Linked DNA regions of Homo sapiens. The protein of the gene in region 1 purifies or fractionates together with the protein of each later gene. This does not show direct contact. Each region holds a gene or a part of one and is shown in the gene's direction. Other genes may lie near its edges. The genes, in order: IZUMO1, SLC39A11, ANKRD13D and CRACR2A.

Region 1 (8,316 bases):
CATCTCAGCCTCCCAATATGCTGGGATTACAGGTGTGAGCCACAGTGCCCAGCCAAACCATGGCTATCTTGAAAACCACTTGTCTTCCAGTCCCCATGCCCCGAAATTCCAAGGCTCTCATCCCTGAAACCTAGGACTCAGGCTCTCCCTACCTCAGCCCCAGGAGTCTAAACCTTTAACTTCCTCTTTCCCTGGGACTAAGGAGTGCTGCACCCCAGGCGCCTCCCTTACCCCACATCCCTCCTCAGCCTCCCCTCCTCAGCCTCAGAGCATTTGCTAATTCGCCTTTCCTCCCCTGCAGCCATGTGGCTCCGGAGCCATCGTCAGCTCTGCCTGGCCTTCCTGCTAGTCTGTGTCCTCTCTGTAATCTTCTTCCTCCATATCCATCAAGACAGCTTTCCACATGGCCTAGGCCTGTCGATCCTGTGTCCAGACCGCCGCCTGGTGACACCCCCAGTGGCCATCTTCTGCCTGCCGGGTACTGCGATGGGCCCCAACGCCTCCTCTTCCTGTCCCCAGCACCCTGCTTCCCTCTCCGGCACCTGGACTGTCTACCCCAATGGCCGGTTTGGTAATCAGATGGGACAGTATGCCACGCTGCTGGCTCTGGCCCAGCTCAACGGCCGCCGGGCCTTTATCCTGCCTGCCATGCATGCCGCCCTGGCCCCGGTATTCCGCATCACCCTGCCCGTGCTGGCCCCAGAAGTGGACAGCCGCACGCCGTGGCGGGAGCTGCAGCTTCACGACTGGATGTCGGAGGAGTACGCGGACTTGAGAGATCCTTTCCTGAAGCTCTCTGGCTTCCCCTGCTCTTGGACTTTCTTCCACCATCTCCGGGAACAGATCCGCAGAGAGTTCACCCTGCACGACCACCTTCGGGAAGAGGCGCAGAGTGTGCTGGGTCAGCTCCGCCTGGGCCGCACAGGGGACCGCCCGCGCACCTTTGTCGGCGTCCACGTGCGCCGTGGGGACTATCTGCAGGTTATGCCTCAGCGCTGGAAGGGTGTGGTGGGCGACAGCGCCTACCTCCGGCAGGCCATGGACTGGTTCCGGGCACGGCACGAAGCCCCCGTTTTCGTGGTCACCAGCAACGGCATGGAGTGGTGTAAAGAAAACATCGACACCTCCCAGGGCGATGTGACGTTTGCTGGCGATGGACAGGAGGCTACACCGTGGAAAGACTTTGCCCTGCTCACACAGTGCAACCACACCATTATGACCATTGGCACCTTCGGCTTCTGGGCTGCCTACCTGGCTGGCGGAGACACTGTCTACCTGGCCAACTTCACCCTGCCAGACTCTGAGTTCCTGAAGATCTTTAAGCCGGAGGCGGCCTTCCTGCCCGAGTGGGTGGGCATTAATGCAGACTTGTCTCCACTCTGGACATTGGCTAAGCCTTGAGAGCCAGGGAGACTTTCTGAAGTAGCCTGATCTTTCTAGAGCCAGCAGTACGTGGCTTCAGAGGCCTGGCATCTTCTGGAGAAGCTTGTGGTGTTCCTGAAGCAAATGGGTGCCCGTATCCAGAGTGATTCTAGTTGGGAGAGTTGGAGAGAAGGGGGACGTTTCTGGAACTGTCTGAATATTCTAGAACTAGCAAAACATCTTTTCCTGATGGCTGGCAGGCAGTTCTAGAAGCCACAGTGCCCACCTGCTCTTCCCAGCCCATATCTACAGTACTTCCAGATGGCTGCCCCCAGGAATGGGGAACTCTCCCTCTGGTCTACTCTAGAAGAGGGGTTACTTCTCCCCTGGGTCCTCCAAAGACTGAAGGAGCATATGATTGCTCCAGAGCAAGCATTCACCAAGTCCCCTTCTGTGTTTCTGGAGTGATTCTAGAGGGAGACTTGTTCTAGAGAGGACCAGGTTTGATGCCTGTGAAGAACCCTGCAGGGCCCTTATGGACAGGATGGGGTTCTGGAAATCCAGATAACTAAGGTGAAGAATCTTTTTAGTTTTTTTTTTTTTTTTTTGGAGACAGGGTCTCGCTCTGTTGCCCAGGCTGGAGTGCAGTGGCGTGATCTTGGCTCACTGCAACTTCCGCCTCCTGTGTTCAAGCGATTCTCCTGTCTCAGCCTCCTGAGTAGATGGGACTACAGGCACAGGCCATTATGCCTGGCTAATTTTTGTATTTTTAGTAGAGACAGGGTTTCACCATGTTGGCCAGGATGGTCTCGATCTCCTGACCTTGTCATCCACCTGTCTTGGCCTCCCAAAGTGCTGGGATTACTGGCATGAGCCACTGTGCCCAGCCCGGATATTTTTTTTTTAATTATTTATTTATTTATTTATTTATTGAGACGGAGTCTTGCTCTGTAGCCCAGGCCAGAGTGCAGTGGCGCGATCTCAGCTCACTGCAAGCTCTGCCTCCCGGGTTCATGCCATTCTGCCTCAGCCTCCTGAGTAGCTGGGACTACAGGCGCCCGCCACCACGCCCGGCTAATTTTTTTTGTATTTTTAGTAGAGACGGGGTTTCATCGTGTTAACCAGGATGGTCTCGATCTCCTGACCTCGTGATCTGCCCACCTCGGCCTCCCACAGTGCTGGGATTACCGGCGTGAGCCACCATGCCTGGCCCGGATAATTTTTTTTAATTTTTGTAGAGACGAGGTCTTGTGATATTGCCCAGGCTGTTCTTCAACTCCTGGGCTCAAGCAGTCCTCCCACCTTGGCCTCCCAGAATGCTGGGTTTATAGATGTGAGCCAGCACACCGGGCCAAGTGAAGAATCTAATGAATGTGCAACCTAATTGTAGCATCTAATGAATGTTCCACCATTGCTGGAAAAATTGAGATGGAAAACAAACCATCTCTAGTTGGCCAGCGTCTTGCTCTGTTCACAGTCTCTGGAAAAGCTGGGGTAGTTGGTGAGCAGAGCGGGACTCTGTCCAACAAGCCCCACAGCCCCTCAAAGACTTTTTTTTGTTTGTTTTGAGCAGACAGGCTAAAATGTGAACGTGGGGTGAGGGATCACTGCCAAAATGGTACAGCTTCTGGAGCAGAACTTTCCAGGGATCCAGGGACACTTTTTTTTAAAGCTCATAAACTGCCAAGAGCTCCATATATTGGGTGTGAGTTCAGGTTGCCTCTCACAATGAAGGAAGTTGGTCTTTGTCTGCAGGTGGGCTGCTGAGGGTCTGGGATCTGTTTTCTGGAAGTGTGCAGGTATAAACACACCCTCTGTGCTTGTGACAAACTGGCAGGTACCGTGCTCATTGCTAACCACTGTCTGTCCCTGAACTCCCAGAACCACTACATCTGGCTTTGGGCAGGTCTGAGATAAAACGATCTAAAGGTAGGCAGACCCTGGACCCAGCCTCAGATCCAGGCAGGAGCACGAGGTCTGGCCAAGGTGGACGGGGTTGTCGAGATCTCAGGAGCCCCTTGCTGTTTTTTGGAGGGTGAAAGAAGAAACCTTAAACATAGTCAGCTCTGATCACATCCCCTGTCTACTCATCCAGACCCCATGCCTGTAGGCTTATCAGGGAGTTACAGTTACAATTGTTACAGTACTGTTCCCAACTCAGCTGCCACGGGTGAGAGAGCAGGAGGTATGAATTAAAAGTCTACAGCACTAACCCGTGTCTCTGTAGCTTTTTTGGAGCCAGAGCCACTGTGTATGTGTGTGTGGGTTTGTGTGTGTGTGTGTGTGTGTGTGTGTGTAAGAGAGTGGAGGAAAAGGTGGGGTACTTCTGAAGACTTTTATTTTTTTTTAATTAATTTATTTTTTTTCAGAGATCGAGTCTTGCTCTGTGGCCCAGGCTGGAGTGCAGTAGTGTGATCTCGGCCCACTGCAAACTCCCACCTCTCGGATTCTGGTGCCTCAGCCTCCCAAGTAGCTGGGACTACAGACGTTCGCCACCATGCCCAGCTAATTTTTGTATTTTTAGTAGAGACGGGGTTTCACCATGTTAGCCAGGCTGGCCTCGAACTCCTGACCTCAGACAATCTGCCCGCCTCGGCCTCCCAAAGCGCTGGAATTACAAGCGTGAGCCACCGCGCCGGGCCCTGAGGATTTTTATTACTCGTGATTGGGAGTACTGTCCCTACTTAGATCTGACAGCCCCTTGTTGCTGGACTTGTGTGAGTTGTGGTCCCTGTTTTTCTGGTTCCCTGTTTCTATCACACAGGAGAGAGAGACCTTCCAGGACCCTAACGTCTGAGCCCCCAGTTGCTCACTCCTGGACTGTCAGTATTGGCCCCCAGTCCTCTCCTCCCACTGGGACCTCCGCGTGGGCAGAAGAGGCGGAGGAGGGAGCGGATTATCACTGAACTACATTTCCCGGAAAGCTATGAGGTTGGCAGCGTCAGTCAGCTACAGAGAAAGAGGCCCCAGGGCATTTTGGGAGTTGTAGTCTTAGGGCTAAAATGTCCACTTCGTGGCTCGACAGCCGTTTCCAAGGACCGCGGTGGGGGCGGCAGCGGCCTGGGGGGCCGGATCTAGCCCAAAGCCTGGGTCCTGGGGCAAGGGGAGGGGAGGAAACTGAAGGCCTGAGTCCGGTCCTTGACTCTGGAAGCCAGAGTAGTCAGGAGGCTTCCTCTTCCCTAGATGCTGGGAAAATTCTAGTCCAAAAAGGCTGCAGCCTCTGTGACGTCATGGAGCGATGGGCGGGACCTCCCTTTGTTGCAGTCCAATCAGACAGAGTTGAGTTTCTGGGTGGGGCCGAGGAAAACCCCAAGGAATATCTATAAAGGAATTCGGGCCCCTACGTGAGAAGCTCGGAGGGGGTGGTTTCAGGAGTTCCTTGTGGAGAGGGGATCGTCCGTGACTCAGACCCCGTCGAAAAGCTCTCGATTTCACGCAACCAACCTTACCCTCGTCCCCAACACAATCCTTGATTTTACCCCTGGGAAAATTAGCGTAGGTGGTCATGACCCCGGCTTCCTCTTTAAAAGCCCTCAGAACCTGGACCGGGCTCCTCAATGAACCCTAGTGTTAGAGGCCACAAATCGGGAACCAAGGTCGGGGAGCGGCTGTTTAGGGTGCATCACTGTTCAGGATGCATCGGGGCTCCTTTTTCTAAGCGGAAGGGTGCGCCCTGCAAATTGGGAGCCCGTTAGTTTTGGGGAAGGGTGAACAAGGGCCCCCTAGGTCTAGAGGACCGCATGGAGTCTCGCTTAAGTGTTAGTGGGGTCCTCAGTTCTAGGAATCTGGTATGTGTTTTGGTTTTGAAGGAGTTCCGAGTTTGATAATATCGTGGTTGGGTCTGTGTTAGATGTTTATTGGTTTGGGCATTGAATCTTCAGCTTGAGGTTCAACAGGTTTTGGGGGGCTGGCGGGGGAGTGCCTCGGTGTTGCTCTTAAGGGTTGGAGTTCAGGCTCACGTCAATCTGGGGACTTGGAAAATTCCACAGTTTGGGATTTTGGGAAGGGGCGCATGGGGTTGGGAGATTCCAGGTTCTGAGTTTGGGGACTTATGAGTGATTCCTGTTTAATAGTTTTTCTGATCTCTCAGTTGGGGGATTCAGTGAGAACCCTAAATTTTGGGTCCCCTGGATTGGGGCTCAGTTTCACACTTCGGAGGCATTTGATGAAGGACATAGGTCCTCTTTATTTGGAGATTTCCTGAAGATCCTCTTTTCGAGGTTTGCGGACCCCATGGATAGGCGGCCCAGTGGGATTTCTTAAGATGGATTTTGGCTTTTCTCCGTTTAGCGTTCTCCTGCTCTCGGTTTGGGGTGAGAGCACCCTTCCTAACGGTCTTCGGGAACTGTGCGCGCCGGCTGCAATGGGGCCGCATTTTACCCTCCTGTGTGCGGCGCTGGCCGGTTGCTTGCTTCCTGCCGAGGGGTGTGTTATATGTGACCCGTCTGTCGTGCTGGCGCTAAAGTCCCTGGAGAAAGATTACCTGCCTGGCCACCTGGATGCGAAGCATCACAAAGCCATGATGGAAAGGGTAGAGAATGCCGTGAAGGATTTCCAGGAACTGTCGCTTAATGAGGATGCCTATATGGGGGTCGTTGGTGAGGGCAGGGGGGACCACGGACCCCTGGGTCCTGGGAAAGGAGGGAGATAAGACCAGGGGAAGGAAGAGGCTGACAGCAGGGTCTCCGGGATTCGGGAATGGAGAAGGCTGAGATGCAGATTCCGAGGTTCCCCGAGGCTAGTAAATACCGTTTTCCCTATCCTCGGCTGGCAATTTTATGTAATAAAACTACAACTCCCAGAAGGCAACGGGCGGCTGAGTCCTTAACCAGGCCTATCTTTGCCCAGTGGCCTCATGGGTATTGTAGTTTCTAAGATTAGGCGCGCCAATGAGACAGTAAGGCTGGAATCTGGGGTTATATCTCCTCTGACAGATGAGGCCACACTGCAAAAGGGGTCCTGGAGTTTGCTGAAGGATCTGAAACGCATCACAGACAGTGATGTAAAAGGTAAATGCATCAAGGGGGTGGGAGTCCCGAATCTCTCAGAGAAGCCAGCGTTAGTGATGCCTGGTCTCTTGGTCAGATACTAGGCTGTGGACCCAGACCGCCTAGATTCCAATGCCTGCTCTGCCACTTCCTAGCTGTACGGCCTTGAGCAAAGGACTTTGAAGCTCCCTTGGCTCTAAAATGCTTCCTCAGTTGTTCAGTTTAAATGTGTATTGCTGGCCGGGCACGGTAGCTCAGGCCTGTAATCCTGGCACTTTGGAAGGCTGAGGCAGGCAGATTACTTGAGCTCAGTAGTTCAAGACCAGCCTGGCCAACATGGTGAAACCTTGTCTCTACAAAAAATAGACATATGTATACATATTAGCTGGGCATGGTGGTGTGTGCCTGTAGTCCTAGCTACTTGGGGGGTTGAGGCGGGGGGATTGCTTGAGTCCAGGAGTTTGAGGCTTCAGTGAGCCACGATTACACCACACACTCCAGCCTGGGTGGCAGGGTAAGACCCTCCCCCATCCCCCAAAATATGCATTGCCTAGCCCAGCAGCTGGCATTATGTTAGACGGTCAGTTGTAGCGCCCTTTCCTGAGAAGGCCAGGAAGTAGACTGCCAGACTCTGCAGGCAGAAGTAAACTTCCAACACCTCACACGTGGGATTGGGGGTTCCTGTGTCTTCCCAGGCGATCTCTTCGTGAAGGAGCTATTTTGGATGTTGCACTTGCAAAAGGAAACCTTTGCCACCTATGTTGCTCGATTCCAAAAAGAGGGTGAGAGAAGATGGGAGTCGGTGTCCCCCAGCTCCTCTTTCCACTATCCAAGAGTCCTTGTCTCCAGCCCCTTACTTCTCCAAGCCCAGTTCCTCAGCTTCCCCAACTGCCTCCTCCTTCAGACCCAAGTCTTTTCTCCCTCGAACCCAAAAGCCCAAAGCCCAGCTCTTCCCCCAACCCCCTCTTCCATCGTCTTTCATTTAGAAATCTGACTCTGTCATCTCTTTCTTGCTCTCTTTTTTTCTCTTTTGACACAGCTTATTGTCCCAACAAATGTGGTGAGTCTGGATTACAGAAGTTAACCCTCATCCTGCCCTCTGAATAGTCAACCTCCCCACTCGCCTTTTTGGATCCTGGTGGTTTTGTCATTCTCTGCCTTGGAGAGGTTCCTGGGTCTCCAGTATTCTTTCTGCACCATGGATTTCTTGGGGAGCAGGTCATATTCTACTTACACTCTTTTTTTTGAGACAGTCTCACCCTGTCACCCAGGCTGGAGTGCAGTGGCACGATCACGGCTCACTGCAACCTCCACCTCCCAGGTTCAAACTATTCTCCTGCCTCAGCCCCCTGAGTAGCTGGGATTACAGGTGCCCGCCATCACACCCAGCTAATTTTTGTATTTTTAGCAGAGACGGGGTTTCACCATGTTGGTCAGGCTAGTCTTGAACTCCTGACCTTGTGATCCGCCCGCCTCGGCCTCCCAAAGTGCTGGGATTACAGGAGTAAGCCACCGCATCCGGCCTCTACTTACAATCTTTACTGAGCCTTGTTGGAGCCCACTTACTACTTACCTGCGTCCTGGTCCTGTGCCTTCGTCTGACCATCTAGGAATGTCATAGATGATCTGGCCCCAGCCCTTAGCCCTGACCTCTCCTTTTAGCCATGCCCCTTAGTGGGCAAATACAAGCCTTGACCCTGCCCCTCCAGGTGTGATGTTGCAAACTCTGATCTGGTGCAAGAACTGCAAAAAGGAGGTTCACGCTTGTCGAAAGTCCTACGATTGCGGGGGTGAGAGAACTGGACCCAGCAGGAGGAATTGGTGCAGGTGGGGTGGGGCGAGAGGAGAGGCAGTCTAGAGAGAGCCTAGATGGGGGTGTGGGGGCAGTAGACAAGAAAAGGTAGGGTTTAGGCCAGGTGCAGTGGTTCACACCTATAGTCTCGCACTTCGAGAGGCTGAGACGGGA
Region 2 (7,760 bases), on another chromosome or scaffold:
GTCAGGGGACAGCCTGCGGTTTCTTTTCTAAAAGAGCCCTTCATCTCCACTTCCCTCTCCTTCCCATTAATGTGTCGTGGTCCAGACTAGTAATAGTGTCTTTGTGCTACTGCTGGGGAGGAACAGAACCCAGAAGACAGCAGCTTCACTGTCTTCAGAAGGGCATGGGTTTGTATTTTCCCCGTGGCTTTTGAATGCTGTTTTGAATTTTCATGGCCCATCCTGGAAAGGAAACCTCTCATCTGACCTTTCCCTTCCCAGAGCGTAAAGGAGGGAGGGAATGGCCCACCAACCCCACCTGCCCAGGATCGTCAGCTCAGAGTGTTTAGTTAGACTGAAGGCCTTGCAGGAATGCACAGCAGGGCTGCAGGAGGGGAGCTGGTGAGCCTGGGGCATCCTCCACGCCACCAGCCCCCCGGGAGGCTGCCCTTGTTCTTCTTCACAGTTTCCCATCCTCCAGCCAGTCTAGGCCCCACAGCTCCTAAGTCAGCTCACGGCTCACCCCCTACCACTGAGAGACTATCCCTGCCACGGGGTCCTCAATATTCTCTGTCACTTCTGTTATGCATCCATATCCCCGAATACCACCTGCTTTGCTGCTCCTGCCCTCAGTTGCTCCAGATCTCCTCCAAAGCTCCCCAGATCAGATCTTGTATATAGTAAGCACCCCGGTTGCAGGCTCCTGATGCATTCAGTAGTGGCCACAGGTGTCCTCGGCTCCCAGACTGTGTTGGGAATTCGAATAGCAGGGAAGGGGCTCCTGGGAGGGAGGCGGGCTTGGCCTCCATCCTCATCCTCACCTCCTCTGACACCTGCTTAGGCCAGTGGCTCTCAACGCCCTCGCACACTCTTAAAATCTGCACACAGGGGGCCCAATGCCACGGCAATAAACCGAGATCTCCAGGGCAGGGCCGAGGCATCGGCATTTGCCGGTGCTCCCTGTGACTGGCATGTGTCGTCAGGTCTGAGAGCCGTGGATTCAAATCCCACTCTGGAGCTGATGCAGGTGATTGAAGAAGAGGAGAGGGCTGGAAGGGACTGTGTCCTCCACTGGGCCACCCCCACCAGTGGGCCTCTGACCAATGCCCAACAAGCAGCGGGGCGAGGGAACTTGGATGGGCCTGTGCGTGTGCACGGGTGTGTGGAGGAGAGCCCAGTTAGGCAGTGTTGTGCATGACAGGTAGGAAAGGCAGAGAAACTGTGGTGCCAGCCCCTGCTGGGGAGCAAAGGAGCCCAGGAGTGTCAGGAGGGACTCTGACCGCCCAGCAATGCAATGCCCTGCTGAGAAAGGCCTGGCAGGATCCAGAGGGCATGGCAGCTGTTTGGGCTGGCAGCCCCGTGCCAGGGCTGGGGCAAGGCAGAGGTAACGAGGCTTGCCAGGGATGGAAGAATGGGGTTTCTGTGCTGCTTATCAGGATGGTGGCTCCCAGACAGGATGTGGAGGAGGCTCCCACAGCCCGCCGGGCGATGGCTGTAGTCAGCGCTATGTCACGGCGAGGACTTTGGATGGGGAGCCCCACCTCTGATTTGTCAGTGACATTGGGCTGGTCACTCTGCGGCTACCTTCGTGTGCCTGCCTGTGAATATGAGGTGCAGGCAATGGCAGCGGACTGAGAGCCAGCCACCAAGTGCCTGGCAAAGCCCAAGATATCAGAAGCCTTGGCCTTCCTCATTGGAAAGAAACCTTGCACTTCGGACTTTGCAAAAGGTCAAGGAAGCTGGTTGTATTCACTCAACCATTTTGAGGGCTACAAGGAGATGCTGAACAAAGTCGCAGGGAAGGGGCCCCCCTGAGGGTCTATCTGGGAAGGCGGGGCAGGGGCTTATGAAATATTGGCAAGAATTTATCCTTAAGAATTTGTCCTCAACATAAATATATTCACATGTCTCCAACTCCTGGAATAGGAGCTCAGGGTCAGCTTGCACATGAAATTGGTAGCAGAAGCTGCGAGAACAGGCCGCATTTCTGCCCAGGGCTGGTTAGAACACGCTTGTCAGCATCCTATAACTGAAGCAACGTTCAACAGTGTCTTCCAAAGCTAGCTTTCGAGTCCTAGGCCTGGGGCCCCAGAGGGAAGAAGTGAGGCCATTAACTCCGATCCTATACCCAATGCCAGAAGCGGCACCCATCACCCTCCCTGGCAGAGCAGCAGAAGAGGGGAGCCTAGGACCTTTCAAGGTGAGGAAGAGAGCTCCTGACCCTTTTGTCCTGCCCCTATAGACTGGCTAGGAAGACATGTTAGGGACCCAGAAAATAAGGAAAAGCAAGATGGCTAAGCAGGGCCACCCGCTCACTCCCCATGCCCCACCCTTCCGCACACACACGCACATTTTAAACACAAGGGACCAGAATGACACCTTTTTCCTAAACATCTGTAGCTAGATTTCCTTTTTCATCCTGTCTCATTTCTCCAAATCCTTCTCTCCTGTTGAACTAGGACAGATCAAGACTATGTGGAGGATATGTAAGCTACAGTTGACTTCCTGCCCAGGGCCTCACCTCCTAGAAGCACTTCTCAGGGAAGTGTAAAACTGTCCCCAGCTGCCCAGGACAAAATCTTCAGAGGTGACCCCCAGGGCTCAATTATCCAATGGAGCTTTCCATACTTTAAAGTGCAGCAGGCCGGGTGAGGTGACTCACACCTGTAATCCCGCACTTTGGGAGGCCGAGTCGAGCAGATTACCTGAGGTCAGGAGTTCGAGACCACCCTGGCCAACATGGTAAAACCCCATCTCTACTAAAAATACAAAAATTAGCTGGGCGTGGTGGTGGGCACTTGTAATCCCAGCTACTGGGGAGGCTGAGGCAGGAGAATCGCTTGAACCCATGAGGCGGAGGTTGCAGTGAGCTGAGATCACGCCACTGCACCACTTCAGCCTGGGTGACAGAGCGAGACTCCTTCTCAAAAAAAAAAAAAGAAAAGAAAAGAAAAGAAAAACCAAAACAAAAAAAAAGGGTGCAGTGGCTCATACCTGTAATCCCAGCACTTTTCAAGGCTGAGGCAGGTGGATCATCTGAGGTCAGGAGTTTGAGACCAGCCTGGCTAATATTCTGAAACCCTGTCTCTGCTAAAAATACAAAAAAAAAATAGGGGGGTGTGGTGGCACATGCCTGTAATCCCAGCTACTCGGGAGGCTGAAGCAGGAGAATCGCTTGAACCCCAGAGGTGAAGGCTGCAGTGAGCTGAGATCGTGCCAGTGCACTCTAGCCTGGATGACAGAGCGAGACTCCATCTCAAAAAAAAAAAAGAAAAAAAAAGCGTGCAACAGAAGAGTCAAGCCCACCAGGCTCATCAGAATGCCCCCTACTCCCTTCCAGCAGCTCTCCCCTCCTCTGTGCCCAGGGAAGCGTCCAGCCTCCAGACATTTACTGGGGCTCAGGGGGGTCTGGAGGTGATAGAAGGAATTCTTCTATATGTGCCAGCCTAGGAGAAGCAAGAATCCACATCTCCCGGGAGTTTCTGTACAACCCAAACAGACCAAGCAGTATATAGGAACACAGTATCTGAAATGCCTTCAGGTTGCACAGTGGTTCTCACCAAAATCTTACAAGTGATGTAAAAATCTCACACAAGTGTCAACAAGAGCAAATGAGTGAGTGCCGATGGAAACTCAAGCATAGATGAGCCATAAGCAAAACAGCCAAGCCAGGTCTCTTTGAAACAGAGCTTTGCAGAGGAATGAGTTTTGGCTTTAGGGTAGAAAATCTTAGTCTCTCTTGGAAAGAGGACGCATGAGTTCTTGGAAAAGCTTTAAGTCCCTGTCTCTGTTATTTCACGCTGCAACCTCAGTGATAACACTCACCCTCACCCCAGGACAGGCATTGATTACGTGCTTACTGCATACTAGCTCCCGTGTGCTAAGGGCTTGAGAGGGACCATCCCAGGTAATCATATCAGCAACGCTGTGAAGTGAGGGTGGGTATTGTTCTTCAAATTCTGCAGTTGGAGAAATGGAAAGTAGCACAGCTAACAAAGCACAGACCCAGGATTTGGACAGAAGAAGTCAGACTGCAAAGCCCAAACTTCAACTACCACATGCATGGCCATGAGAACATAAGAAGAGATAGGGTCTGCAATGCCCAGGGTCTGTGGTTTCATCTTGCCAGATCTTTCTGCAGCCACTGAGCTATCAGGGCAGGGGTCAGCAAACTGCAGCCCATGGGCCAAATCTGGCCCCCCACTCATTTGTGTAGATAAAGTTTTATTGGAACACAGCCACACTCAATGGTTTATGTACTGTCCATAGCCACTTTTGCACCTGCAATGTCAGAGTTGAGTGGTTGCAACAGAGACTCAGTGGACTGCAAAACCTCAAATATTTACTATCTGGCCCATGACAGAAAAAGTTTGCTGCCCCCTAGATCCAGGGATGAAGTTGGAGCATGTTTGAGCCCCTCTCTAAGGAGTCAAAGGAGAGCACAAACTTGGGTGATATAGACAGGGATTTGGGTAGACTCGTGGGAAATGCTGAGTGATGCAGCTTTTGTGGACATGTCCTGGGCTGGTGTGGTGGGGTGTCTTCTTGTCTGTCCACTCCACTTCATGAACAGTTCTGCCTGCAGGTTGGAGAGACAGGCTCAATGCTTCTGTCAGTCCCAAGAGACCATAATATTTCCTTTATTAAGGAACTGATCAGTTTTCGGATGCTATCACTTTTCAGATGCCCCCTGGGGAAGCTGCTTTGTCCCTCTTCACAGTTTCCCACCCCCAGCCAGTCTAGGCCCCACAGCTCCTAAGTCAGCTCAGGGCTTCTTCCCCCAACCCCACCCTAGGGGGACCATCCCTGCCACGGGGTGCTCACTATTCTCCATCACTTCTGTTACATATCCATGTCCCCTAATGCCACCTGTTTTGTTACTCCTGTCCTGTGTTGCTCCGGATCTCCTCCAGAGCTCTCCACATCAGATCTTGTATACAGTAAGCACCCTGGGCTGCAGGCTCCTGATGCATTCAGTAGTGGCCACAGGTGTCCTCGGCTCCCAGCCTGTGTTGGGAATTGGGATAGCAGGGAAGGGGCTCCTGGGAGGGGGGTGGGCTTGACTGCTTTCCTCATCCTCACCTCCCATGATGCCTGCTTAGGCCAGTGGCTCTCAACGCTGTTGCACACAGGGGCAGATTTTAAGCTGATGGGTAGATGCTGAGGGGCTCATTGTAATCTTGTCAAAAAGGGATGGGCACTAATTCTATGAACCACATGTGAGCTAAGTGGTGACAGGTATGAGATTCTGTTAGGGCTGGACTTTTCCTAAGAGTCTACTTGACTGGCAGACTCGAGGTGGGGGCTACTTCTTCCTGAGGTATCTGGAACTACGAACCTCAATGAAACATGTGCAGGAGTTGGGGGATAAAGGTAAAAAAAACAGGGTAAAGGCCAAACCCTGAAACAAAATGGAGGTCAGATGCTAAACTGGGGATTCGCCTTGGTGTTCTTTGTTAGAGGCTGGAACTTGGGCCTCAGCCGGATCAGGCCTGACAGGACCTTCAGGGCCACGAGTGTGTCCCAGTCCCGGGAGCCTGGGGCAGGTCATAGGCAGGGGTCCCAGCTACCAGTCTACAACACTCCCTTGCAGCAATGGGTAGATTCCTATTGGCAGCAAGATGGATGGACGTGAGCCAGTTGACCTGAAAGTCGGTGATGGTGGAGTTTCTCTTCTCTATCTAATCTACCCACAATTCCCTCGGGCCACACACCAGCATTGCTTGCCGAGTGGCACCCTCTTCTCACGCCCTTTAGATCATTGTTGATCAGATGGCCCTTCATGGAGGGGCTGCTTCTTGGAACTGTCCGGCCAAGGTAGAGTCTCACGTGCAAAAGGGCCTTCCTAAGGCACTCGGACTGGCCCCATTTCCCTCCTCTGCTTCCCTCATGCCTCTGTTTCCTGTGCAAGTTGACTTTTGGCTGATTTGCTGTAGTTTGCAGCATCCACAATAAGGGTTCTTCATGTACATGCCTGTGTTGTCTCCATGGCTAAATACTAAGCCCCCTGAGGCCAGGCATGTGGTCACAGATTGCATTTGTACGCATCCCATTTTGCTTCTCCCTCCTCTCACACTCCAATGCCTGGTTTGTGCAGAAAGCAGCTTCTCAAAGACAGGCATCTATCAGCACAGCCTGTCACTGTCCTGCAGAGGCAGGAGGTGAGAGGATCACTGTGAGCACCACTGGGGCCCAAAGAAATGCAGCGATGGTGCCAGACCTGCAGAGCCCACGGAGAAGCTGAGCCCAGAGCCAGATCTGTGGCACCATCAGCGTCTGCAGCTGCACTTCCTTGTCCCATTTCTGAAGTGGCCTCTGAATAAAATGTGATATACTCATTTCTGTGCTGTAACAGAATAGAAACCAAAATGCATTAAGCACCTCTCTATGCTAGGATGTGATAGGCATTATTGGGTCACTGGGTCACTCAGCAATCCTTTATGGTAGATATTGTTGTCCCTAAATTGTATACAAGAAACAGAGGTGTAGGCTGGGTGCCGTGGCTCACGCCCATAATCCCAGCACTTTGGGAGGCCAAGGCAGGCAGATCACTTGAGGTCAGGAGTTGGAGACCAGCCTGGCCAACATGGTAAAACCCCATCTCTACTAAAAATACAAAAATTAGCTGGAAATCACTTGAACCCGGGAGGTGGAGGTTGCAGTGAGCCGAGATCATGCCACTGCACTCCAGCCTGGAGTCTCCAGAGCGAGACTCCATCTCAAAAAAAAAAAAAAAGAAAAAGAAAAAAAGAAAAAGAAACAGAGGCGTAGAAAGTAAAATGAAAAGTGCAGTTATACAGCCACGTGGCAGAACTCAGGGCACCCTGAGAGCCAGCCAGTGTGTTCTGTGCTGTAGCAAAGCATTGTAAGGACAGAGCCTGCCCAGGACCCAGGACAGCATGATGGGTAGAGGGCTCACGTCACTCCCTCCTGCAGCCCCTGCTCTTTACCTAGACACACGTCCTGACCTTTCTCCTTCCTCTCCTACTGCAGGTCACAGGTCTCCTCCTGGCTTCCTAGCACCCACGGAGGTCTTGGCCTCGGCCAGGGACTCCCATTGTGTGAGCACCTATTCCAGACAGCAGCCTTCATGTGCTTTCTTGGTTTTTCAGGAATTTGGCCATTGGAATCGGGATCCAGAATTTCCCCGAGGGCCTGGCTGTCAGCCTTCCCTTGCGAGGGGCAGGCTTCTCCACCTGGAGAGCTTTCTGGTGAGTGCTGCCCAAGGGCAAGGCCATGTCACAGCATCCTCCATGTGGGCTTCTTTCAACAAAACAGTGATGTGCTTTTGCACTGCCATGCTCAGATATGACGTAGAATGGCATGCATCCATGTGCTAGGGTTGAGCCAACAGTCTGGGCACGTGGAGTGTCTGCTTGCCTCCCCCTGCGGTGGTAAATGTCTCTGTTCTCTCCTTAGGTATGGGCAGCTGAGCGGCATGGTGGAGCCCCTGGCCGGGGTCTTTGGTGCCTTTGCCGTGGTGCTGGCTGAGCCCATCCTGCCCTACGCTCTGGCCTTTGCTGCCGGTGCCATGGTCTACGTGGTCATGGACGACATCATCCCCGAAGCCCAGATCAGGTTGGAGAACCTTCCCTCCCTGTCTGTCCCTGTCCCAGTCCCAGCTGGGACCCCAGCCTTGGGATATGCTCTTTCTTCATTTGCCTTTCCTTTCCTTATTCCCTCCCCCTCTCTGCCCCTTCCCAAGATCATCCCCACTGCCTCCTCAACTGTGCTCTCTGAAACTAAAAGAAAAGAAGCTAAGGGCATGTGGGTCAAGAAAT
Region 3 (7,760 bases), on another chromosome or scaffold:
GGCCCAGCGAGGAGCATGTGGCCAGTCGCCTCACCTCTCCTATCGTCTCCACCCACCTGGACACTCGTAATGTGGCCTTTGAGAGGTCGGTCGGGTCCTGGCACACCGTGGGTGGGATGGGGACGGATAGCAAGAGCCACCATTAATGAGGGCAGGGCGATCCTTGAAGATCCTGGTTCAGGCCTCTGGGCTCACTCACAAGGGGCTGCTCAGGGGCAGGTGGGTTGCTGCAGCCCGTGTCTCACTCAGACTGCCGGGGTGGTTGGGCTCCTGTGGCCACCTTTGTGGGGAGGGGTCAGGTCAAGATGTCCCCAGTTTCTTGACTTCTGACCTCATATGTTTTCCCATTAAGACAAAGATTTAGGCTGTGGTTCACGGCAGCTCTTTGCACCAATGTTGGCTTGTCATTGGTGCGGCTGTGTTGGGGGCAGAATCCTTTGTGGGTAGCCTAGGAACCTGACCCTTCCAGCAAGAGTTTCTCTGACAACACATGCCCCCTCTTGCCTTAACAGTCAGTGGAAACACTTAAAAAAAAAAACAAAAAACCTTTATTGAGATATAATCTCATATACCATATAAGATCACCCATTTAAAGCATACAGTTCAATGACTTTTAGTATATTTATTCAGAGATTTGTACATCACCACAGTCAATTTTAGAACATTTTTATCACCTCAGGAAGAAACCCCCCACCCTTTAGCTAACTCTTCGCCAAACTTCTTATCCCCTCTCCCAGTCCTAAGCAACCACTAATCTACTTTCTGTGTCTGTAGAATTCCCTGCTCTGAGTTCTCATATGAATGGAATTTTATAATATGTTGCCTTTTGTGTCTGGCTTCTTTCACTTAGTATAATATATTCAAGGTTCATCCAAGTTGTAGCACGTAACTATTTCTTTCCTTTTTGTGGCCATTGTATGAATATACCATATCTTGTTTATTCATTAACCCATCGATAGACATTTGGGTTATTTGCATTATTTGGCTTATGAATAATGCCACTCTAAGTATTCATGTGCAAGTTTTTGTGTAGACGTATGTTTTAATTTCTCTTTCATATGTTTTCATTTCTCTTGGGTATATACCTAAGAGTGGAATTGCTAGGTTACTGATAACTCATTGTTTAATTGACTGTTTACCAAACGAGCTGTACTGGTTTACATTCCCACCAGCAGCATGTGAGGGTTCCAGTTTCTCCACATCCTCATCAACACGTCATTATTCACTCATTTGTTTTTGGAATCTAGCCAGCCTAGTGGGTGAGAAGTGATAGCTCACTGTGATTTTGATTTGCCTTTCTTTGATGACTAATGATGTTGAGCATCTTTTCATGTGCTTATTGGTCAATTGTATATCTTCTTTGCAGAAATGTCTATTCAGATCCTTTACTCATTTTTTATTTAACTTAATTAACTTATTTATTTTGAGATGGGGTCTGGCCTTTCACCCAGGATGGAGTGCAGTGACATGATCATGGCTCATTGCACCCTCCACCTCCCAGGCTCAAGTGATCTAAGTAGCTGGGACTACAGGTGCATGCTGCCATGCCCAGCTAATTTTTAAATTATTTGTAATTATTTTATTATATCATTTAATTGTTTTGTTTAGTTATTTGTAGAGATAGAGTCTACAGACTGGTCTTAAACTCTTAGGCTGAAGCGACCTGCCTACCTGGGCCTCCCACAGTGCTGGGATTACAGGCATGAGCCACCACACCTATCCCTTCACCCATTTAAAAAATTGGGTCATCTTTTGATTATTGAGTCATAGGAGTTTTATAATTTTAGCTGTTACACTTAGGTCTTTGAGCCATTTTAAGTTAATTTTTGTGTATAGTGGAAGGTTCTTTTGCATGTGACTATCCAGTTGTCCTAGCCCCCTTTGTTGAAAAGACTATGTTTTTCCCACTGAATGGTCTTGTCACCCTTGTCGAAAATCAGTTGACCATAGATAAATTGGTTACTTTCTGACTCCCACATTAGTTCCATTGGTCTACATGTCTGTCTTTATGCCAATATTATACTGTCTTAATCACTGTTGCTTTGCAATAAGTTTTGAAATTGGAAAGTGTGAGTCTTCCTACTTTGTTTTTCTTTTTCAGGGTTATTTCAGTATTTTGGGACCCTCGCATTTTATATGAATTCTATTTTCTTTTTTCTCACAACCCAGTGTAGGCAGAATATATGAATTCTAGATTCAGCTTGTCAATTTCTACAGTCAGGTGGGATTCTGATAGGAATTGCACTGAATCTATAAAGCAGTTTGGGGAATAGTACCATGTTAACAATGTTAAGTCTTCTAATCCGTGAACATGGGATGTTTTTCCATTTATTTGGATCTTCTTTAATTTATTTCAACATTATTTTATAGTTTTCAGAGTGTAAGCTTTGCACTTTTGTTACATTTATTCCTAAGTGTTTTATTCTGTTTTTTGTTTTGTTTTGTTTTTTTGTTTTTTTTTTTGAGATGGAGTCTCACTCTATTGCCCAGGCTGGAGTGCAGTGGCACAATCTAGGCTCACTGCAACCTCCACCTCCTGGGTTCAAGCAGTTCTCCTGCCTCAGCCTCCCAAGTAGCTGGGATTACAGGTGCCCACCACCACTCCTTGCTAATTTTTGCATTTTTAGAGAGACAGGATTTCACCATGTCGGACCAGGCTGGTCTCCAACTCCTGACCTTGCTGGGATTACAGGTGTGAGCCACCGTGCCTGGCCACTAAGGGTTTTATTCTTTTTGATACAATTATGAATCAAATGTTTTTCTTAATTTTATTTTTTGATTGTGTATTGCAAATGTATAAAATTACAATTGATTTCTGTATGTTGACCATGTATCCTGCAACATTGCTAAACTCATTCATTCAAGTAGATTTTTAGTGGATTCCTTTCCTCAGTATTTTTTTTAACATATAAGATTATGTTATCTGTAAATAGATTTAGTTGTATTTCTTCCTTTCCAATTTAGGTGCCTTTTGTTTCTTTTTCTTGCTTAATTGCTCTGACTAGAACTTCCAGTAGAATATTGATTAAAGGTTGTTAGAGGCTGGATGCGGTGGCTCACGCCTGTAATCCCAGCACTTTGGGAGGCCGAGGTGGGTGGATCACGAGGTCAGGAGATCGAGACCATCCTGGCTAACATGGTGAAACCCCATCTGTACTAAAAATACAAACAATTAGCCAGGCTTGGTGGCGGGCGCCTGTAATCCCAGCTACTCAGGAGGCTGAGGCAGGAGAATGGTGTGAACCCGGGAGGCAGAGCTTGCAGTGAGCCAAAATCACGCCACTTCACTCCAGCCTGGGCGACAGACCAAGACTCCATCTCAAAAAAAAAGGGGGGTGGTTAGAGCAGGCTGGGCATAGTGGTTCACGCCTGTAATCCCAGAACTTTGGGAGGCTGAGGCAGCCAGATCACTTGAGGTCAGGAGTTTGAGACTAAGCTGGCCAACATGGTGAAACATCATCTCTACTAAAAATACAAAAACAAAAAAAAAATTAGCCAGGCATGGTGGTGGGCACCTGTAGTCCCAGCTGCTTGGGAGACTGAGGCACAAGAATTGCTTGAACACAGGAGGCAGAGGTTGCAGTGAGTCCAGATTGTGCCACTGCACTCCAGCCTGGGTGACAGAGCAAGACTCCATCTAAAACAGTAAATAAATAAATAAAAAAGAAAAGAAAAGTGGTTAGAGCAGACATCCTTGTATTCTTGTCTTGTTCTTCATCTTAGGGGAAAAACATTCAGTCTTACCATTAAGTATGATATTAGTTGTGAGTTTTTGGTAGATACCCTTCATCAGGTTAAGGTAATTCCTTTCCATTCCTCATTGTTAGAGTGTTTTTATCATGAAAGGATGTTGGATTTTGTGAAATGCTTTTTCTGTGTTTATTGATATGATCATGTGATTTTTTAAAAAATTCTATTGATACATCAATTGACCTATGGATATTGAACCAACCTTGCATTCCTGTGATAAGTTCCACTTGGTTGTGGTGTATAATTCTTTTCATATGTTGCTAGATTTGGTTGGTTCGTATTTTGTTGAGGATTTTGTGTCCATATTCATAAGTGATATTGGTCTGTAGTTTTCTTGTGATATATGTCTGGTTTTGGTATCTGGGTGATGCCTCATAACTGAAGTGGAAAATGTCACCTCTTTGTCTATTTTTTTTAATAGTTTGCAAATAATTGGTATTAATTTGTCTTCAAAAGATTGGTAGGATTCAGTGGTGAAGCCATTTGGGCCTGAGTGTGTGTGTGTGTGTGTGTGTGTGTGTATGTGTGTATAGTTTTTTGTTGTTATATTTACCAATCAGTCTCTTGACTTGTTATCCATCTATTCAGATTATCTATTTATTCTCAAATTAGTTTTGGTAGTTTGTGTCTCACTAGGAATTTGTCCATTTCATCTAAATTATAAAATTTGTTGGTGTACAGCTATCATTGTATCCTTTTATAATGCTTTTTATTTCTGTTGCTCCCCTCTTTCATTTCTGATTCTGGTGAGTAATTTGAAGTTTTTGTTTTGTTTTGTTTTGTTTTGTTTTGTTTTGTTTTTGAGACAGAGTCTTACTCTGTCACCCAGGCTGAAGTGCAGTGGCATGATAAGAGCTCACTGCAGCCTTGAACTCCTGGGCTTAGGTGATTCTTCAACCTCCCAAGTAGCTGGGACTGCAGGCATGCACCACCAAGCCCAGCTAATTTTCTTTTTTTGTAGAGATGTGGTCTCACTATGTCATCCAGGCTGCTTTTGAACTCCTGGCCTCAAACAATCCTCCTGCCTTGGCCTCCCAAAGCACTGACATTACAGGTGTGAACCACCGCCCCCAGCCAAGTCTTCTCTCTCTTTTTTTGCCCACCGTGGTCAACCTAGCTAAAGGTTTGTCAATTTTGTTGATGTTTTCGAAGAGCCAGTTTTTGGTTTCATTAATTTTCTCTATTATTTTTCTATTCTCTATTTCATTAACCTTTACTGTAATATTTATTATTTCTTTCTGTTCTTTCTGGTTTAGTTTGCTCTTTTTCCATTGTCTTAACATGGAAGGTTAGGTTAAGGTTATTGATTTGAGATCTTCTTTCTTAATATAGGCATTCACACATATTACATTTATACTTCTAGGCATGTCTTTTCTTTTTTTGACATGGGGTCTCACTCCATCGCCCAGGCTGGAGTGCAGTGGTGTGATAGCTCACTGCAACCTCCGCCTCCCAGGCTCAAGTGATCCTCCCACCTCAGCCTCCTGAGTAGCTGGGAACACAGGCGCCAGCTAATTTTTTCTGTTTTTAGTAGAGATGGGGTTTCACCATGTTGCACAGGCTGGTCTCGAACTCCTGTGCTCAAGCAATCTGCCTGTCTCAGCCTCCCAAAGTGCTGGGATTACAGGCGTGAGCCACCGGGCCTGGCCTGGCCTTTACCTGTGTCTCATAAGTTTTTTGGTTTTTTTTTTTTTTTCTGAGAGGGAGTCTTGCTCTGTCGCCCAGGCTGGAGTGCAGTGGCACGATCTCGGCTTACTGCAAGCTCCGCCTCCCGGGTTCACGCCATTCTCCTGGCTCAGCCTCCCGAGTAGCTGGGACTATAGGCGCCTGCCACCACGCCCGGCTAATTTTTTGTATTTTTAGTGGAGATGGGGTTTCACTGTGTTAGCCAGGATGGTCTCCATCTCCTGACCTTGTGATCTGCCTGCCTCGGCCTCCCAAAGTGCTGGGATTACAGGCGTGAGCCACCGTGCCCGGCCATAAGTTTTGATATGTTGTGTCTTTATTCCTGTTTATCTCAGAGTATTTTCTGATTTCTCTTTTGATTTATTATTTGAGACGTTGGCTATTTAGGAGTGTGTTGTTTACTTTCTACATATTTGTGAATTTCCAAAGTTTTTTTTTTCTGCTATTGACTTCTAATTTCATTCCATTGTGGTTGGAAAACATACATTGTATGACTTCTATCCTTTCAATTTTATTGAGGTTTTCTTTTTTTTTTTTTTTTTTTTTTTTTGAGACGGAGTCTCGCTCTGTCGCCCAGGCTGGAGTGCAGTGGTACTGTCTGCTCACTGCGAGCTCTGCCTCCGATGTTCACGCCATTCTCCTGCCTCAGCCTCCCAAGTAGGTGGGACTACAGGCGTCCACCACCGTGCCCGGCTAATTTTTTGTATTTTTTAGTAGAGACGGGGTTTCATCATGTTTGCCAGGATGGTCTCGATCTCCTGACCTCATGATCCACCCCCCTTGGCTTCCCAAACTGCTGGGATTACAGGCATGAGCCACCGCGCCCGGACTTATTGAGGTTTTCTTAATGGCCTAGTGTATGGCCTTGAAGAGTGTTCCGTGTGCGCGTGAGAAGCGTGTGTGTGGTTGTTATTGGGTAGAGTGTTCTAGCCTGCTTATGAAGTCCAGCTGTAGTGTTGTTCTTATCTTCTGGTTCTTTGTTGATCTTCTAGTTGTTCTATCCCTTATTGAAAGTGGGGTACTGGAGTCTCCAACTGACATACTTTTCTTTTAGCTTTTTATTTTGGAAAATTTCAAACATATATGAAAGAAGAGATAATGTACTTACTCATCACCCAGCTTCAACATTTATCAACATCTTGCCAATCTTACTGAATCTATCCTTCCTTACCTTTTTTAAAAATGTTTCCTAGAGTGTGTCAAAGCTCATCCCAGATGTCCTAATGTTTCTAGTAAATGCTTCTGCACAATTCTAAAAGACAAGGATGTTTTTAAACCCAGCCCCGACACTATCATACCTCACAAGATTCATGCTAATTCCTCAGTGTCTTCTAGTCCCAAGTCCATGCTCAAGTGTCCCCCCCTGTCCAGGCACCCTCTTCAGGGGTCCTCCATGTTTCATAGCGAGAAGGGGCCCTGAGAGTTGGGCACCCCGGGCAGGCTGGCTGGAGGGGGCTTTGGAAAGGAAGGCTTTGGCCAGCGTGTGAGGGTGCAGGTCTCACCAGCTCCTGTTTGGTCTGTTTCAGGAACAAATGTGGTATCTGGGGCTGGCGGTCTGAGAAGATGGAAACTGTTAGCGGCTACGAGGCCAAGGCAGGAGAGGCTAGGGGTGGGGGGCTGGGGGTAGGAGATGAGGTCCAGGAACTCAGCTCCTCTCCACATCCATCCCAGAGTAGCCCCTGGGCTCTGGAAACCCTGAGCATTTGTGGGAACTCAGCGGGCCTGAGTGCCCAGCCCCTGCGGAGTACACAGGGCTCACCCACATCATGGGCCCCTACCCAGGGTACCGAGATCAAAAGAGGAGTGTGTTCCTCTTGACCCTGGGGCTGCATCTCCTCGTTGGTGACTTCCTGGGGTTCAGACCCTGCCACCTCCTCCATTTTGGGGAGCAAGATCTCATCTGTCTCTGGGACAGGAGGACCTGGGTTCTGCACTGGTGAGGCTGAGTGTGGGGAGCAGGCTCTGAGCCCCCAGCTCCCCGTGTCCCCTGCTCCCCAGGTGTACAGTGCCACCAACGTGGAGCTGGTGACACGCACACGCACGGAGCACCTCTCTGATCAGGACAAGTCGAGGAGCAAAGGTAAACCCAGGTGCGCCTGCCTGCTGCCCGGTCACACCGTGTGGTGGGGTCACCCTGGCCTGGGATTAGGGGCCAGAGTTTCCCAGGATGAGCTGGGAGGCCTCCCCATTCCCGTCTGACCCCTCTTCCCCCAGACAGTAGGCTCCAGGGGTGGAGGTGGGCAGGGGCGATGCGAGCATTGTGACCCCTTACCAGCTCCCACCCCTTCTCCGTAGCGGGGAAGACTCCATTCCAGTCCTTCCTG
Region 4 (7,760 bases), on another chromosome or scaffold:
GTACATTCGTAGGCACCCAATCAATGGTAGTTGTGCTAACATGCAAAGGAGGAGAGGGATGGTGAAGCAGTCTGGATGCAGAAGCTTTCTACTGGCTTTTGTAGGACTGGGCCGAACTCTAGACACTTTCTGGCAGAAGGCTCTGCAGTCCCAGGTCACCTCCCCCACCAGTGAGTGTCAGTGTTAACCAGTACACTCTGGGTTGTTTTCAGAGGCTGCATAAGGAGCTACCGCTCAGCCTGGAGGAACTGGAGGATGTGTTTGATGCCCTGGATGCTGATGGCAATGGCTATCTGACCCCACAGGAGTTCACTACTGGATTTAGTAAGTTCTGATGGGTGCTGGGGACCTCAGGGTTATGGGTCTACCTAACACTGTATAAGGTGCATTCCTGTCCCTTGTAGACCTGGGGGGCAGGTAGTAAAGCTTTCCTGCCCTCCTTTCAGGGACCTGGAGCTCAAGGTCTCCAGGCTCTAGATTGCTTGGGCCTCCTCACATGCCCGTCTCAACTGCTTACATTGCCGCTTGCTCAGTGCCCACTGCACTGCCATTACCAAGCTCCCTCCCACTGGGACTGGCAAGGGAGATGGACGGAAGCTCTGCAGAAGCCATAGCATAAAAGGGGGAGCTGTGATGAGATTTGCAGCCTCTCCTTTTCTGCCTTCATAGAAAAATGGCCAAAAGGTGGGACAACTGGATGGCTCATTCCAACCCAAGTCTGGCTGAATTTTCCAGGTTGAGGGATAACAGCTATCAGAGGAATTTCTAGAAGGTTTGAACAGACTAGACATTCTCAAGGTAACCAGGAGGAAGAAGAATCGAGATCTATGAACAATATAAAGAAACCAGACACACTATCCTATCAGATACATCAAAAGCCATATATCTGCCTTATGTGTGGGGCCATATAATTTTCTTGTAAGTATCTGATGCCTTTCCTGACCTTCAGGAGCTTCTAATTGACTTGGGAGGATAAGACAGACTGCTGTAACACTGGACAGTATGAGTATGGAGGAAGTACACTGGAAACTGTTAAGGAGCTTGTAGATGTGAAGTCTAGTGATGCTAGCGGGAGGATGACTAGGATGACAATAGGAGCCTCTGCAGTCAGGGTGCTGGAATGCAGTGCAGGGAAAGGCCTTGTTGCTTAAAGAAGAAATCAACGGAGATGCGTTCTAAGCCAGATGTTAAGGGACTGAGAACCACAAAGGAGACACCGTATCCGTCTTACATTCTGCCATTCCCAGATTCTAGCATCACTGATGGGGTGTTTGTGGAAGTGGAAAAGTCACAGAATCTGGAACGTGTCCACGGACCCATGTCCATGGATCTTTGCTGGAGGGGCTTTCCCTTCCCTTTCCTTCTCTCAGATGAACCTTCAATGATTCCTGGCAGGTGAGAAAGCTGAGCTCTTCCTGGATGGGTATGGTCTAATTCGGATCCTTGTGCCCTGCACCCCCCAGGTCACTTCTTCTTCAGCCAGAATAACCCAAGTCAGGAAGATGCAGGTGAACAGGTGGCCCAGCGCCATGAAGAGAAGGTGTATCTGTCCAGAGGGGATGAGGATCTGGGCGACATGGGCGAAGATGAGGAAGCCCAGTTCCGGATGCTGATGGACAGACTTGGAGCCCAAAAGGTGTTGGAAGAGTAAGTGGTGACAGTGATTTGTAGAACGGAGACCAGCCTGGTAGGAACCTCTTCCTGTGTCCATTCAACAATTAACATTTGTTAACCATGTGGTGCTGGTCCCTGCACTGGAATGCAGTGCAGGTAAAGGCCCGCTGGTTCTGCCAGTGGGGGCCTGTCCTTTGTGATGACCTGGCTGTGTGTTGGGCTCTGTCTCTGCTGTTTACATTTTTTTTTCTTTAGGAATCATTCCTATTCTCCTTCTCTCCCACCCCCTCTACCTTCCTCACTCCTGGCCATGCATTATCCCCCAGTCCTTGGCTCAGCCTTGCTCCTCATGAGGCACTCACACATCAGAGGTCTGTACCATGCTCTCAGGGTTTTTCATGGAGTTCTCCCTAAGGCTTCCTATCACCATCAGCTCCCCAGCATCTTTACCTCTCCTGGGTCTCTAGAGCTACGGTGCCTCCCAGCTGCCCCAGCTGTGGGTGCCTTCCTGGCCAAAACCCATCATGTGGAAGCATTTGCACACGGTATCCTCGGCAAACCAGGCTTGTGCAGGAAGCCAAGGTGGGAAATGAAGCAGTTTTTAGCAGGCCACTACTTGGAAAATTGTAGATGGCTGAGATCTCAAACAAAACATAACTACCCCTCCACCATTTTTTTTCCTAAAATGTGCTTTGGAATAGACACAGGGATCTAAGCCCTGACATTGAAGTAAAGTAAAATAAAATAAGGAAAATGTGGTGTTACAGCTAGTAGAAACCAAACAGAGGGCCTGAAAAGCATGTAATACCTTCTGCCCCTTTAGCCTTTGCCTTTGGCCTTTTTGTTTTGGGGTCCTTAGGTCTTGGGTTAGATGTATGTTTCCTGTAGTGTGGGAATGCCCTACTGATTACAGCTGACATTTCCTGAGCTTGGGAAGAGAAGGGGCTAGGGTGGAAAATGATAAAAAGGAGACAAGAGAGAAGAGGCCTATATACGATTTGCAGGCCGAAGCTCTGTGAATTTTTCAGCAAACAATTTGGTAGACTGTGGCAGAACTGGGAAAGGCTGGCGAAAGTGTGTTCCAGGCAAGAAAGGGATAGGCAAGTGCCTGGGGAAGATCCTGGTGGGGGCGCTACACAGGAAGTGGAACTCAAGACCAGCAGCAGTAGCAGGTTTGCTGAAGGCCTGGAAGGGGCTGCAGCAGGTGTCGACCACAGAAGGTGTAGCTGGCAGGTGGAAGGGGCACAGGTGGGTGGGAAGCTCATTAGTCATACACCTGACCCAGCTTCTCCAAGGACAACAGGCCAGAGCACAGAGACCATTCCTGGTGACAGTGTGACACCTCCTCCTGGAGAAGGGGGAAGGAGAAGGCAGTGCAGGTGAGCTGAGGCACCGTAACGGAAGGAAGGGGCCTCTCTGCCCAGCCCTCACTGCAGGGTAGCAGCCTTACTGGCAAGGTTCTCAATTAGAGTCCACCAGACGTGACTCTGAGGACCTATAGTAAGGCAGTGCAGAACTGAGCCAAAATGAGATGTCCCGAAGAAGAGGAGGTTTTGTGGAGGTTTCAAGAGTGGTCTGTAAAAGATGATACACAGAAGATGGTGACCAGCCACTTCCATCCTCACTGAAGTGGGCTTAGATTGCAGCATGAGGGAAACATTCACGGCTGTGAGACCTCAGATAGGGAAATAGAAAAGGCTATGAATATTTGAGGGCTCTTTAAAGATTTTGCTCACCAAAATGATTTGTGTGTTGTTCTGGAAGCAGTGAAATGGATTGATAAACCTCCCAGAATCCTTTCTAGCCTATACTCCCATATCCTCCCAGGAGGGGTGGCCTTGGTGTGTTCTAGAAGTTCGAGACTGGGCATCTGCACTTTGACTTTTCTTGGTGGTCCGATTGGCTAAGCGATTTGGCAGCTTAGTGAGCTTTGGCTTGTTTTTCATCAAAAGTTGAAAGACTTGTCCCTTCTCCAGAAATCTGGGGCAAGTTGTTGTTGCCATGACTAAGTAGTTCAAAGAGTGTTGGAAGAGGAGCAGGTGGGTCTGCAAATCTCACTGGGGACTTGAGCTCAGTTGGCTCCATCAGGAACCTGGCAGGTGTGGACAGACAGACCTGGGCTGGCAAGGTGAACCTTGATTTTACAATGCATTTACTTCATGGTGGCGTGTCTCAGTCCATTTGGTTTGCTGTAATACCTGCCATAGATGTGGTACTTTATATAAATAACCAAAATTTATTTCTGGCAGTTCTGGAAGCTAGGAAGTTCAAGATCAAGGTGCCAGCAGATTTGCTCTCTGATGAGGTCACATTCCCTCATTCACAGACAGTTGTCTTCTCACTGTGTCCTCATATGGCAGGAAGGGTGAATGAGCTTCCTCTGGCCTCTTTTATAAGGGCACTAGTGCCATTCGTGAGGGCTCTGCCTTCATGATCTAATCACCTCTCAAAGTCCTCATCTTCTGGCACCATCATGTTGGGGTTAGGATTTAAACATATGAATTTGTAGGAGATATAAACATTCACACCACAGCAGGGAACAACCTATAACAGGGATGGGAGGTCACCATGGTGTCTCTCTGAGACCCTCTTATCTCTGAACCCTTTGCCACATCTAAATTTTACCTATAGGATGAAATAAGACCCCCACAACATGCTGTGTGTGTGTTGTGGGGCTGGGAGGAATGGAACTCATTCTGAGAAACAGAGAGGTTCCTTACCTCCTTTTCTCCCATTTCCCAGATTCACCCATGACATCCAGTACAGTGCAAGGTTTACAACAGATCATAATAAATACTTGTTGAGTTAATAAGGAAATGGGTGGGTGGATGGATGGATGGATGGATGGTCTAAATAAGTACGCGGATGTTTGGATGGGATAGAAGAAAGAATTGGTGGAAGTGATGGAGCAAGGAAAGGAGGGAGAGAGGGATGAAGTGTTAGAGATGACCAGATAACTGATCAGAGGTGGGCCTATTTCTCAGTGGTCCTCTTCTCTGCTGGGTGCAGAGAGTCATGTCCATTTCCCAAGAGCGTTGCTAGCATGGCACTATTGAATATCCCTTCTGAATAAGGTTTCTAAAATATAATGCTTAATAACGCAAGCACAAAGGATTTTATTCCTTCTCCTGAGGGTTCCTTGTCAGAGCTATCCTCAGATCTTCTGTTTCTGGAATTTAATGGAAGACAAGTCACATTTACGTTTCTGTTTTTGTGGTTTTTGTCTTAAAGTGATTTATTAGTGAGGTACTCCCAGAAGAAACTGGCAAGGGATTTGGGGAAGTGGGACAGGGAAAGGAAGTAAAACAAATAATGGCGTAATTTTAGGAAGAGTCCTGGTTCTCCAGGGGTATTATTTATGTAGTCATAATAGTATAAACATTTATTTAATATCATATTTGGGAGTTAGCATACAGAGTTTTAAAACAATACTAATTATAGAACACAGTGTCAATGGCACTAGTCCCATTTGTGAGGGCTCTGCCTTCATGATCTAATCACCTCTCAAAGGCCTCACCTACTGATGCCATCATGTTGGGGGTTAGGATTTAAACATATGAATTTGTAGGAGATATAAACATTCACACCACAGCAGGGAGCAAGCTGCCACAGGGATGGGAGGTCACCACCCATTTCTCAGTGGGCCTCTTCTCTGCAGGGTGCAGAGAGTAATGTCTATACCACAGGGGCATTGCTAGCATGACACTAACAAATATCACTTCCGAAGAAAATTTCTAAAATATAATGCTTGTTATACAAGCACAGATAATTTTATTCTTTATCCTGAGGATTCCTGGGGAGCCAACAGGAATCTGTTGGTGGCAGATTGTCAAGGTGCAGATGACTGTAATGGACAAGCAAATTTTGGAAAGAGCTCAAGAGAAGTATAGGCATACAGATAACTTTATCCTCATAAAACGAGGGTCATAAGCGATTTTCCATAATCAGGTTAAATTAATTAAATGTGAAATATACATTACATAAAGTCTCAAAGTTTAACAGAGTAAAAAATCAAAATGTAATTATGTTGAAAGGATGGAAGGAGGTGAAGGACTTATATTTTCAATAGCTGGAAACTTGAAAGATTAAGACACAGAGTGAATATTTAAGTAACAAAAGACTTTGAGAAGACAATGAACTGAGCTAGTTATTACATCTTGTTATATAGATGTGAAAAAAGTGTTGGAAAATACATATGTGCCCATTAATTTAAAAAAATCAAAAGCCTGATTGTTTGCGGGATAAGATTTATATTTATTCTCTACTTTGCTAGAATAAAGTTTAATTGATAATTTATAATAAACTAGCCTGTGAAATTTCACTTGAACTCTACTGTTTATTATTATATAACTTTCAAACTTGATGCTATAACACTCTACTGTCTGCTAGCTGTGAGAAATTATTAACTTTTATTGAATTAAAACCTATCCTCTTTCAGATTTATGTTTAACTTAGCTTGATCATTGGCCACAGATTTTTTAGTTTCCCCAGAAAGGGAGAACAGGGTCCACCATGTGTGTCTCCTCCTCATTCCCTCCCTGGGTGTCAGCCTGAGCCCCTGTATCTCTGTCACTGAGCTGTGTACACACGTGCCTCTGTGCCTTTGTCTATTGGCCTCTGGGTCTCCCAAGTCTCTCTCGCCTTGTCTTTCTGTGTGTGCGCATCTTTCAGACTTGCTCCTTCCCTTCTTTTTGCCTGTCAGTCATCCCTAGTGCCACTAGGCCACAGTGGGGTGCTGCATATTCTCTTCCCTTCCTGCAGTGACAATTGCTTTCTGCCATCCATCACATGGCACGTCTTTACCTCTCAGCAGTGAGGACCATCCTTCCTGGGGGCAACGAGCTCTCTGCTTTAGCTCCATAGTGTGTGTCCTTAAACGCACTGGGCTCCTGTCCTCCTGTCTTCTTCCTGGCATTTGGAGATGCACCAGAGCATGTTGCTGTGCACGCCCAGCCCCACGAGCCCGTCGTGAAGGCCACGGGAGAACAGAAGCAGCAGAGCGAGGTGGGGAAGGAGGCCAACACCGGAGTCAGACAGCCCTGAGCTGGACCCCTGACTCCATCAGTGACTGCTGGGTGATCTTAGACAGCTCACTCCACCTCTCTTCACCTGCTTCGTCATCTGTAAATGGGGTAATTGCAGCTCCTGCCTTGTAGGGTTATTGTGAGGACGAAATGAGCTGATATCCTTGAAGCTCCTCACATGCAGCAAGCATTCGGTCCACGTTAGCTACTGTCATCTTTATAATGATTCTGACGGTACTGTTTCTGGCTGTCAGTTTCCTGTCTGGGAACCTCTGTATTTCCCGTGAAGCCTCATCTCCACACTTCCACATGAGCGTCCCTTCTCTTGCAGTGAAAGTGATGTCAAGCAGCTCTGGTTGCAGCTGAAGAAGGAGGAACCTCATTTACTGTCCAACTTTGAAGACTTCCTGACCAGAATCATCTCCCAGCTCCAAGAAGCCCATGAGGAGAAGAATGAACTGGAGTGTGCCCTAAAAAGGTGGGTACCCCAGTGTCAGCCGCTTTCTGTAACTATGTGTGAAAAAGAGAGACACACGGTGCACTTTCTCTTAGATCTTCTGCCAAAACATCGTGCAATGCCTCCTTTTGCTGTCTGCCAAAGTGGGGACCAGGCCCTGTGTCTGTCACGATATATGTATTTTTAAGCTCTCCGTCACCTTTTTAAGCTATATGGTAGGCACTATTCTAAATACTTTTTATACACTAGCTTATTTAGTTCTCACCACAACGCTTTGAAGGAGGGACTGGTTATCATTTTGCACATTTATTATCTGCACATTTTGCAGGCGGAGGGTTGGAAACCCAGAAAGGTTAAGTAGTACACCCCAGAAGGCATAGCTTGTGAACAGTAGAGCCAGGACTGGGAGTGAGCTAGCCAGGTGCCTGTGACCAGAAGAAAAATCACTCTGCTTGCCTCCAGGCAGTAAGACCCCAGCATACTGGGCCATCCCCCAGGGCCAGATCAGCCCACTTTGCAGAGGTGGCGTGTTTGGTAAGGTGACCTATAGCCCTGCTGAATGTCCCTCCTCCTGGCCGCTCTCTCCCGTCACGGCCTCATGTCTCTTCGTCTACCCTATTTGCCTCCAAGACCTCTCCAGGAGACAGGACCAAGCATTGTTAGAA

The links.
Region 2: the proteins of IZUMO1 (region 1) and SLC39A11 purify together in Homo sapiens (co-immunoprecipitation; 3 studies listed by BioGRID and IntAct, with this or other methods). This does not show direct contact.
Region 3: the proteins of IZUMO1 (region 1) and ANKRD13D purify together in Homo sapiens (affinity purification with mass spectrometry; 2 studies listed by BioGRID and IntAct, with this or other methods). This does not show direct contact.
Region 4: the proteins of IZUMO1 (region 1) and CRACR2A purify together in Homo sapiens (affinity purification with mass spectrometry; 2 studies listed by BioGRID and IntAct, with this or other methods). This does not show direct contact.

Annotation. Positions count from the first base shown.
Region 1 is NC_000019.10:48,743,269-48,751,584, reverse strand, and holds the start of IZUMO1 (izumo sperm-egg fusion protein 1 isoform 1 precursor), read left to right. Parts: upstream 1-4,675; 5' UTR 4,676-5,150; intron 5,151-5,652; 5' UTR 5,653-5,725; coding exon 5,726-5,960; intron 5,961-6,296; coding exon 6,297-6,371; intron 6,372-7,045; coding exon 7,046-7,132; intron 7,133-7,389; coding exon 7,390-7,410; intron 7,411-8,059; coding exon 8,060-8,140; exon of another isoform or gene 8,141-8,177; intron 8,178-8,316. Other genes in the region: FUT1 (galactoside alpha-(1,2)-fucosyltransferase 1), read left to right, coding at 304-1,401. UniProt on the Homo sapiens protein: Essential sperm cell-surface protein required for fertilization by acting as a ligand for IZUMO1R/JUNO receptor on egg.
Region 2 is NC_000017.11:72,648,600-72,656,359, reverse strand, and holds part of SLC39A11 (zinc transporter ZIP11), read left to right. Parts: intron 1-7,091; coding exon 7,092-7,190; intron 7,191-7,398; coding exon 7,399-7,557; intron 7,558-7,760. UniProt on the Homo sapiens protein: Zinc importer that regulates cytosolic zinc concentrations either via zinc influx from the extracellular compartment or efflux from intracellular organelles such as Golgi apparatus. May transport copper ions as well.
Region 3 is NC_000011.10:67,292,096-67,299,855, forward strand, and holds part of ANKRD13D (ankyrin repeat domain-containing protein 13D), read left to right. Parts: coding exon 1-85; intron 86-6,962; coding exon 6,963-7,029; intron 7,030-7,434; coding exon 7,435-7,516; exon of another isoform or gene 7,517-7,526; intron 7,527-7,731; coding exon 7,732-7,760. UniProt on the Homo sapiens protein: Ubiquitin-binding protein that specifically recognizes and binds 'Lys-63'-linked ubiquitin. Does not bind 'Lys-48'-linked ubiquitin.
Region 4 is NC_000012.12:3,672,802-3,680,561, reverse strand, and holds part of CRACR2A (EF-hand calcium-binding domain-containing protein 4B), read left to right. Parts: intron 1-212; coding exon 213-324; intron 325-1,463; coding exon 1,464-1,647; intron 1,648-6,969; coding exon 6,970-7,116; intron 7,117-7,744; exon of another isoform or gene 7,745-7,760.